2 separate regions of the Homo sapiens genome follow, and region 2 is linked to region 1. The links come from fine-mapping of genetic effects on gene expression. A gene starts in region 1. The other region holds a variant in brackets. All regions are shown on one strand. Distances are from middle to middle.

Region 1 (4,399 bases):
GCCAAAGACACAATTGATGGATGTTCTACAAAATAGCCTGTGATTTTCCTAAGTGTCAAGATTGGGAAAAATCAAGCAAAGCTTGAGAAACTGTTCCAGATCAAAGGAGATTAAAGAAACAGGACTTACTCAGAGCAAATTGCAATTGGGAACAGATCTTTTTGCCATGAAGAACCTTACTGGGACAACTGGCAAAATCTGAACCGAGTCTGAGGATAAAATGGTAGAAATGTATCAGTGATAATTTCCTGATTGTGACGGCTGCACCGTAGTTATGTCTGTCTGTAAGCCGTACTAAAGTAAACAGAGTGACAGAGCAGCAGGTTGGCACTTTACTGTCAAATGGTTCCCTTCCACTCCCCAGAGATGGTACACCCTGCAGCCCCTCTGACTCCACAGTTCGAGTCTTCATCTCTCCTGGTGTTGGCTCCCCTTTTGAAGTTGGGGGCCAGAGAAGCAAAAGAGTACAGGATCAGAAGTTGAAATATTTGGCTTTAAGTTTTGGTTCTTGGCTTTCTAGGTGTGCTCACTGAGCAAGACACACCCAGTTGTCTTCCCGGTAAAACAGACAACAAAAAGTTGCTTCAAGGGAAGCAGGTGAAGGGAAGGTTCTGCACAGCGTTGTTGTTAATAGTGAAAATGTGGATACTTAAAAGGCCCAACATGCCGGGCGCGGTGGCTCACGCCTGTAATCCCAGCACTTTGGGAGGCCGAGGCGGGCGGATCACGAGGTCAGGAGATCGAGACCATTCTGGCTAACACGGTGAAACCCCATCTCTACTAAAAATACAAAAAATTAGCTGGGCATGGTGGCGGGCGCCTGTAGTCCCAGCTACTCGGGAGGCTGAGGCAGGAGAATGGCGTGAACCCGGGAGGCGGAGCTTGCGGTGAGCCGAGATCGCGCCACTGCACTCCAGCCTGGGCCACAGAGCGAGACTACGTCTCAAAAAAAAAAAAAAAGGCCCAACATTTGATGAACGGTCAAATAAATCATGACACATCCTTACCGTGTAGTCACTAAAACTGATGTTTACAAAATCTTTTCACGGAACGAGATGTTCCTTTAATTAACAAAACTGGGATTTAAAAAAAAATAGTTCTCAAAGACTGAACCACCAACCTGCAAATGACTGTGCATGACACCCCTTGCTACTTGCCTCAAGCTCCTCTGCTACCACGCGAACCAAGCAATGCCCCTCCAGGTGGCCGGCCTCCGCCAGGCCTGCGGAGATCCAGGTTACGCTCCGATGGGTCCGCAATACTCTGCGCACACACTCCCTCCATAAGCGGCACACGCTGAGGACGCAAACGCACAAAGGATTGCGAACGGACGTTCATTTTCGTCTCTCCCACAGCTCACAAACCCCCACCCGCTGGCGCAGCAGCAGGAGATCCCTGCGGGATCCAAAGTCCCCGGGGTAGGTAGGTGTCAGTCAGGGCGCTAGTTCGGAAGAAGAGCCAGATATGGAGAAAACCTTAAGGGGAACTTCGCCCCTCAGGGAAGTCCCCCCGGGGCACCACGGCTGGGAGATACCTCGCGGGTAGGGGGTCACCTCAGGTAGGGCGAGCGAGCCGGGGACGGCCCTGGTGGGTCCCAAGGGTCTCTCCCCCCACCCCGCCAGCCTGGGACATGCCCACGGCGTGTCCCCAGGCAAGCTTCCCGCCTCCGCCTCCTCTCCTCACCAGGCCACCCGCAGCAACGCCTTGGCGGGCAGGAAGGTGAGCACACGCTCCACCACCTCCGCCAGGTTACTCAACACGAAGGTGCTCCGCGGGTCTACGGAGGAGCCGCGGCACTCGCCGCAGCAGCCTACCGGCTCCATTCCTCACCAGCCCGCCGGAACCAGTCCTACGGCGGCTCGGAGGAACCCGATTACGCCAGCATAGGGTTGCCCGGCCGGCGCGCACTGAGCAGGCGTCCGCGCCACTTCCGGCTGGACGGGGAAGGTGGGCGTGGCAACGCCGGTGCGTTCCCTCGTCTGGAGCCCGTACTCCGAGGTGTACTCCGTTCCGTAATACGCTCGGAACTGTTTTCTTCATTTTTGAGATTGGGTCTAATGCTGTGGCCAGGCGGGAGTGGAGTGGCGCGGCCTCTGCTCACTGCAGCTTCTACCTCCCAGGCTCAAGCGATCCTCCCGCCTCAGCCTCCCTCGTAGCTTTAACTACAAGCTCCCGCCACCACGCCCAGCTAATTTTTGTATTTTTTGTAGAGACGGGTTTCCAGGCTGGTCTGAAACTCCAGGGCTCAAGCGATACTCCCGCCTGGGCCTCCCAAGGTGCTGGAATTACAGACATAAGCCACCGCTCCTGGCAACTTTCTAGGAGGCCTCCTGCAGTGAAAATAAATTCTTCTTCTGTGCCTGTGCCTCTCACTGCCCTGGCACCGCCATATTTCTGAGTTTACATCTTTCTCTAATTCACAAATTCCTTGCAGGGACTAGGTAGTACTTATTGCTCTTCGTAGTCCCAATGCCTGTTTAAATAGCATAAGCTCGATTTATAAACGGACGTTTGCTTTTAAAAAATTGTCTTAGTGTGTGAAAATCACTGCCTTTATTCCTTGTAAACTTAGTTAACTCGTTGTAATCTTCAGGTTTAAAGTTTCGAATGAGTAAAATGGCATAAATAGCACCTGCCATTCTAAGGTAGCTGAGTGAGATGATTGCTGTGAAGCACGCCCCAAGCTGTGCACCAGTTCCCCGCCAGGGACATCAGATTCACCTGGAAACTACTAAGTTTTAGCACATTCCCGGTCCTTATCCCAGACCTCCTGAATCAGACACTGGGGGTGAGGCCCAGCAATCTGTTTTAACACACTTTATGACGATTCTGATGCATGCTCAAACTGAGAACCACCAAGAAATGGAAGCACAGCAGACACAGGTTTGTCCCCACCTAACATCCATTCCTCCCGCCAATTCCTTCCTAAGGGAGCCCTGATTTGATCGCCAGATCTTGGGCAGAAACTTGGTCTAAATTAGCAGTTCTCATTATGGCCTCAGGACCCTTTACACCCTAAAATATTGACACGACCAATAGTTTATGTGTGTTATGACTATCAATATTTACCATATTAAAAATTAAATCAGAACATCTTAATGCTTAACTCTTTTTAAAAAACCGATGTTATACATTAACGAAATATTTTTATGGAAAACAATTATTTCCCAAATCCTCCTTCCCCCACTGGTGGATAGTATGACATTGTCAGTGGCATAAGCCTCCTGAGTAGCTGTGGTTTTTTTCTTTTTTTTGGTAGACCCAGGGTCTATGTTGCCCAGGCTGGTCTCAAACTCCTGGCCTCAAGACATCCCTCTGCCTCCGCCTCCCAAAGCGTTGAGATTACAGGTATGAGCCACCAAGCCCAGCCAGTTTTTTCCCATAGTCTATTTATAGGCGCAGCTGCTTAAGGAAGCCAGATGGCCCAGATGTCACCAGAGCTTCCTGACCCCTTGCGGAATACCAGAGGAAGATAAACAGGCGCCCTCCAGTTACCTTTAGATAATTAACATAATGCTAAAATCCTCTCCCTAAAGAAAGCTCACTGGCATCTTACGAACATGGATGTATGAAGCAGCATGTTCAGGGACTATGCCTGCTTGTCTGGAACTCCAGTCTGTGCATGCCGTTCATACCTCCCCCGCCCCTCAGCTAACTCTTTAAACTCCCCAGCCTCCCATCCCTCTGGGAGAAGGTGCCTTTAGAGTATGAGCTCCCCTTCTCCATTCTCTGGCTACTGAATGAAACCTGACTGCCTTTCAAAGTGGGCGTTCTTTCTTTGTGGCTGATATAAAGTAGGGAAAGAGGACAGTTTACCAGTGACGGCATCACTACATTTTTGCAAATATTTAATTTGTCTTAATAGAAGACAAATAGATTCTCATATTTGCTTCTGAATTCAATCTGTTGCAAAATCACATCATGTAGCCTCTGGAAAATTCCATTGTACACATGGAAGAATGAGTGAAAATGGCAAATGTTTTAATATTATGAAAATAGTCTTTTAAAACCTCTTGAAATGGTCTCAGGGGTCTCCAGTGTTCCCCAAATAAGGCTTTGAGAACCATTTGTGCAAACTAATCACGATGGTTTCATTCTTTTCACCACCATTGGTTTAGGGGTGGGCACAGGTCCCTGATGTAGCCAAGGAAAGGCAAGAGGCAGTGTGCTTGATGGGATGGTGCTTTTAGAGATTTCCTCACCTCCTAAGGAGACACTAGAAGACAGGGCCATTTATCTACCTCTGGATCAAGTAAGGGGGCTGCACATAACATGCAACCAAAAGATGAAACCAACATAGAAAAATCTCAAGGAAGCAGAGCAAAGCCCAGATGTACAGTACCTGGAGTTGTCCTACCTCTGGACTTCTTGTATGTGAAATAATCTGTCAATTGTGTGC
Region 2 (4,399 bases), 45 kb after region 1:
ATAATTAGTGATTACTTATATGACTAAAGATAATATTTGAGGAAGGGGAGGTGAGTGGTAAGTGGGTGGTATAAGAGCTAAATTATCATGTATTATAGTAAAAAAAAAATAAATAGGTAATAAATATTTAGATGCCTAAATAGGTAAATCCAGAATGAAATTAGTGATGGTGGTGAGCTAGTGGAAATTTCTGTTGCTTGCAGGAGATAACATTTGGTTTAGTCTTTAAAAAGCACAGACAGACTTAAGGAGATGACATTGCTAGGTGAAGGTAATTGAATAACCAAAGACAAACTATGAAAGAAGCAAGAGCATTTACGGAAACCAGCAATATTAACAAAAAGGTGGTGGTAGAGAGAAGGGCAATTGTTTGCCTGTATAGTAAATACCAGCAGCTCCAAAGAATGAAAAGTTTATTTTTAGTACCTAAAACAGAACAAACAAAACAATTCAATAGGAACAAAAATGAAACTAACTTCTAAATAAGTTGAACAATAAAAAGAAAAATCATCCTAGTTTGACTTTTGCTTGAGACAATTTATTTAGCTCTTGAACACTAGAGAATTTTTACTTTACCTGACCCGTGGGTAGTGGTTGATCTAGCATCTCAACATCCAGGTGCTTAGGAAGGTTATATAAACTGCAGAGTTCACATATCAACCACTTCAATTGCTGACGAAGCTACAAAACACATTTCAGTAAATAAGCATTATGTTAAAGAGCCCTTAGAAGACATCAATAATGTTATGACTACTGTAATCAATCCAGTAGGAAATGAAAAAGTTTGTTACTGCTCAACTGCAGCTTACAGATTTAAAAAATAGTCTTTAAAATATTTTCAGGACCCTCTAGTGTAAGAAAGTTACTATGGCTTGGGGTATAATCACTACAACTGATACCTAGCAGAATGACAACAATAAGGGCAGAGGAAGGAAGTTCCAGACATTGTCCAATTTCTCACTGCTAACCCGTTTTCTGAGAAACTTACAACTTCAGACAAGAGAACATTAATGCATTAATGAGGCTACCAAAAAAATAAAAACAAAAAATAACAGAAAAAATAACCCAGACACACACAGGCAGTGTTGTTACAGATGGATTACAAAATTATATATTCCAGTCATATTCATTTAAAAATACAGAAGCAAATATCTAGTAGACAGAGCCTGGCAATCTAGATGACCTTGGATATCCTATCTAATTCCCTGAGTATGAGTCTACCCATCTGTAAAACAAAGAAATGAAAACTTTCCCAGAATGGTAAAGATTAAATGAAACCTGTAACACTTGATATTTAGTAGGCTCTTAAGTGTCTGTATAAAAAATAACAATAATTCACTAGGAAAACTGCAAAGAATAACTGTAAATTTCCATGTTTAAGTCCAGATTGTTTTCTAAGCATATTTGCTTTCAACAAGTAAGCAAGGTAAATCATGTGCACAAGTATGGTGTTCATTGTTTAAAATGTTTTTCAATGTATAACGTGACTCAAATGGGATCTAATAAGGCAACTCACTTAACTCGGTCAGGAACAGTTTCCTAGGTGGCTCTGACCAAGAAAAGAGATGAAGAGAAAGAAGCAGGTTTACAAAGGACAAAGAAAGAAGACATAGGATTAGAATGGGTTAACGAAGCAAAGAATAAGCTTTCCCAAAGTGGACAACGGAGCAAATGAAAATGAGGAAGGTTGAACGGTAAATTACGATCCAACAAAAATCTTCATGCTTAAACGGAAACCAAGCTCCAGTGTGGATTTGATATCCACCCAATACACTCTATTGCGTGCTAAGTGCATAATGAAGATGAGGCAGAGCAATCCGGACACAGACCTAGACACTCTGGCCTCTGGCACGGAAGGGGCTCCAGGAGTGCTGGGGAGAGAGGCAGCAGGGTAGTGGAGTCATACCAAGCAACAAGAAAGACAGGGTAGTACA[C/T]TCTCCACGAATTTCAATTTTCCTCCCTTCCCCCACACACCAAAAAAGCATTTGAGGGATGGGAGGAAGAAACTGAGATCACAGGGAAAATAGTAAGAGACATTCAGAAGGACAGGTCTTAGAAAATTACTAGTTTGCGGGGGGCGGGGGTCAGAGAACAGTAGTATATAAAAGAACGCTAAGACAGTTCCCAGGTTTGGGTATGGGTGACTAGTTTGATTATTTCATTTTGTCCCACTCACAATCACAAGAATTACTGAGAAAAAACACGGGGCTGATAGAGTGCTAGGAGGTGGGTAAACGCAAATTTAAACGTCATCATTTTGAATATCCATGGCACTGTAAGTGAGATTCCCTAACATATATGATTTACAGACAGATATATGGGTTTGAAACTCTGGAGATGAATACAGATTTAGGAATCCCTAGAACAGAGATCATGACTAAAGTAATGGGAGTAAAATATTACTCAGAGAAAGCACAGAATGAGAAGAGAAGAAGTAGGCCAAGGGAGAAGAGATCAGAGGAGACCAAGGCAGGGTGATAAGATCAAAACAAGACAGTAATCAGATGGAAGTTCCATTAGATTATCAGTTCCCAGAGGACAGGGACATGCCTTGTCTTTTATACTCAATTATCACAGAGCCTGACACAGAAGCCAATTTTTCTTAATTGTGTTCTACTATTGACAGTTTCCTGTACCCACCAGGAAAGAAAAAAGTATAAACAAGCATATAGATTTTTTTTACATTATATACTAAAGGGGCCAATTATACACAATATTTTATGCCTTGCTTTTTCATTTAATATATCTTAGAAATCTGCACATGCTCTTATGGAAAAAATGGCTGCATTTTTTTTTTTTTTGCCTACAACAGAATATTCTATTATAAAACTATACACTATGATTTTTATTTAACCAACTCTTTATTGGTGGACATTAAGAATGCAGGAATGTTTCAACAAGGGAACAATCAACAGTATCAAAATACTGCAGAGGGGTCAATTTGGGGACTAAGAGAGGAGCCGCTAGTTTTGGCAACTAGGAGATAAATTTTAGTGCAATGATGAAGGCAGAATCCAGATTATAATAACTTCAGCGAAAAAAGGTGAAGACATGTAGCTTATTCTCTCAAGAAACTAGGTTTTGATAAACTGGCAGAGGCTGCAAGAGTGGGAGGTGAGTTGTTTTCTCCTTCATGTAAATATATTCACTTTTAAAAAACTAGGCCCAATTTTATATCCTATTTCATTTAACCTTATGAACATGTTTATGTAATATTTTAGATACTGAAAAATAACTCATTTTTGCTATTACAAAACCGTTATCTTTAGATCTTCAGAAGCAACTTCCTAAAAGGAGGTAGCAGTAACAGAACTATGTCTACCACTCTTTCCCATCAACCCCCTTGCTGGGGATGTAAACATGTGTCCATCTAGCTTTTAATTTTTACCTCTTACCTTCATGGCTCTCCATACAAACCTTAACATACGTACGTACGTGTGCATGTGTGTGTACAGAGAGAGAGAGAAAGAGGGTCTTGCTATGTTGCCAAAGCTAATCTCAAACTCCTGGGCTCAAGCAATCCTCCCACCTCAGCCTCCCAAAGTGCTGGGATTACAGGCATGAACCACTGTGCCAAGCCTCAGCCTTAACTCTTAAAATATCTTTTTTTTTTTTTTGGAGACAGAGTCTTGCTCTGTCGCCCAGGCTAGAGTACGGTGGCACAATCTCGGCTCACTGCAACCTGCCTCCCAGGTTGAAGCACTTCTCCTGCCTCAGCCTCCAAGTAGCTGGGATCACAGGTACATGCCACCACACCCGGCTAAATTTTGTATTTTTAGTAGAGATGGGGTTTCGCCATGTTGGCCAGGCTGGTCTTGAACTCCCCACCTCAACTGATCCGCCTGCCTGGGCCTCCTAAAGTTCTGGGATTACAGGCGTGAGCCATCATGCCCAGCCTTCTGTTCTTAAGAATAGATGTGTTTAAACCAACTATACAACTATAACTTATTTTGACAAAAATCAGAGTTGAGACTCAAACTTCCTCAAATAGTTTTCCTAAGACTGTTTACAGAATAATCTAGCCTTTCCTTATTAAGTTAGAATACCACCTTTACCTTATACTAAATTCTCATTTGCATGACTCTGGTTCTAAATTTCCATTGCCTTTATCTGTCTGGAACAGAGTTAGTATACAACATTTTATTGAACATCTGGTTGAACAAGTCTATTCTTTATTTTTTTATCATTTACCCTTTTAAACAAATGTTAGAGTCATTTTGTCAACTTCCAAAAATAAATCTGCTGGGATTTGTACTGAAATTCATTATATATATATATATATATATATACACACACACACACACACACACACGTATATACACATATACACATACATGTATAAACACACACATATATATATACATTTTTTTTTGAGACGGGGTCTCACTCCGTCACCTAG

Evidence for each region. PIP is the estimated chance that this variant, and not a neighbour inherited with it, causes the effect.
Region 2: its variant is the best candidate, but not a certain one, in a credible set for the expression of FBXO22 in whole blood (INTERVAL, PIP 0.65).

The regions. Positions count from the first base shown.
Region 1 is chr15:75,901,388-75,905,786 of GRCh38, reverse strand. It overlaps FBXO22 (F-box protein 22), which reads right to left and starts at 1,909. Exons shown (of 7, transcript NM_147188.3): 1 at 1,684-1,909; 2 at 1,158-1,296. The coding sequence starts at 1,823. RefSeq lists a silencer at 1,518-1,587 and enhancers at 1,638-1,687, 1,708-1,807, 1,424-2,081, 2,168-2,257, 2,082-2,741.
Region 2 is chr15:75,856,160-75,860,558 of GRCh38, reverse strand. UBE2Q2 (ubiquitin conjugating enzyme E2 Q2) reads right to left here. Exons shown (of 13, transcript NM_173469.4): 3 at 577-681. Among named protein-coding and RNA genes, the nearest start is that of UBE2Q2, 15 kb to the right of the region's middle. The variant C/T (reference allele first, on the strand shown) is at 1,935.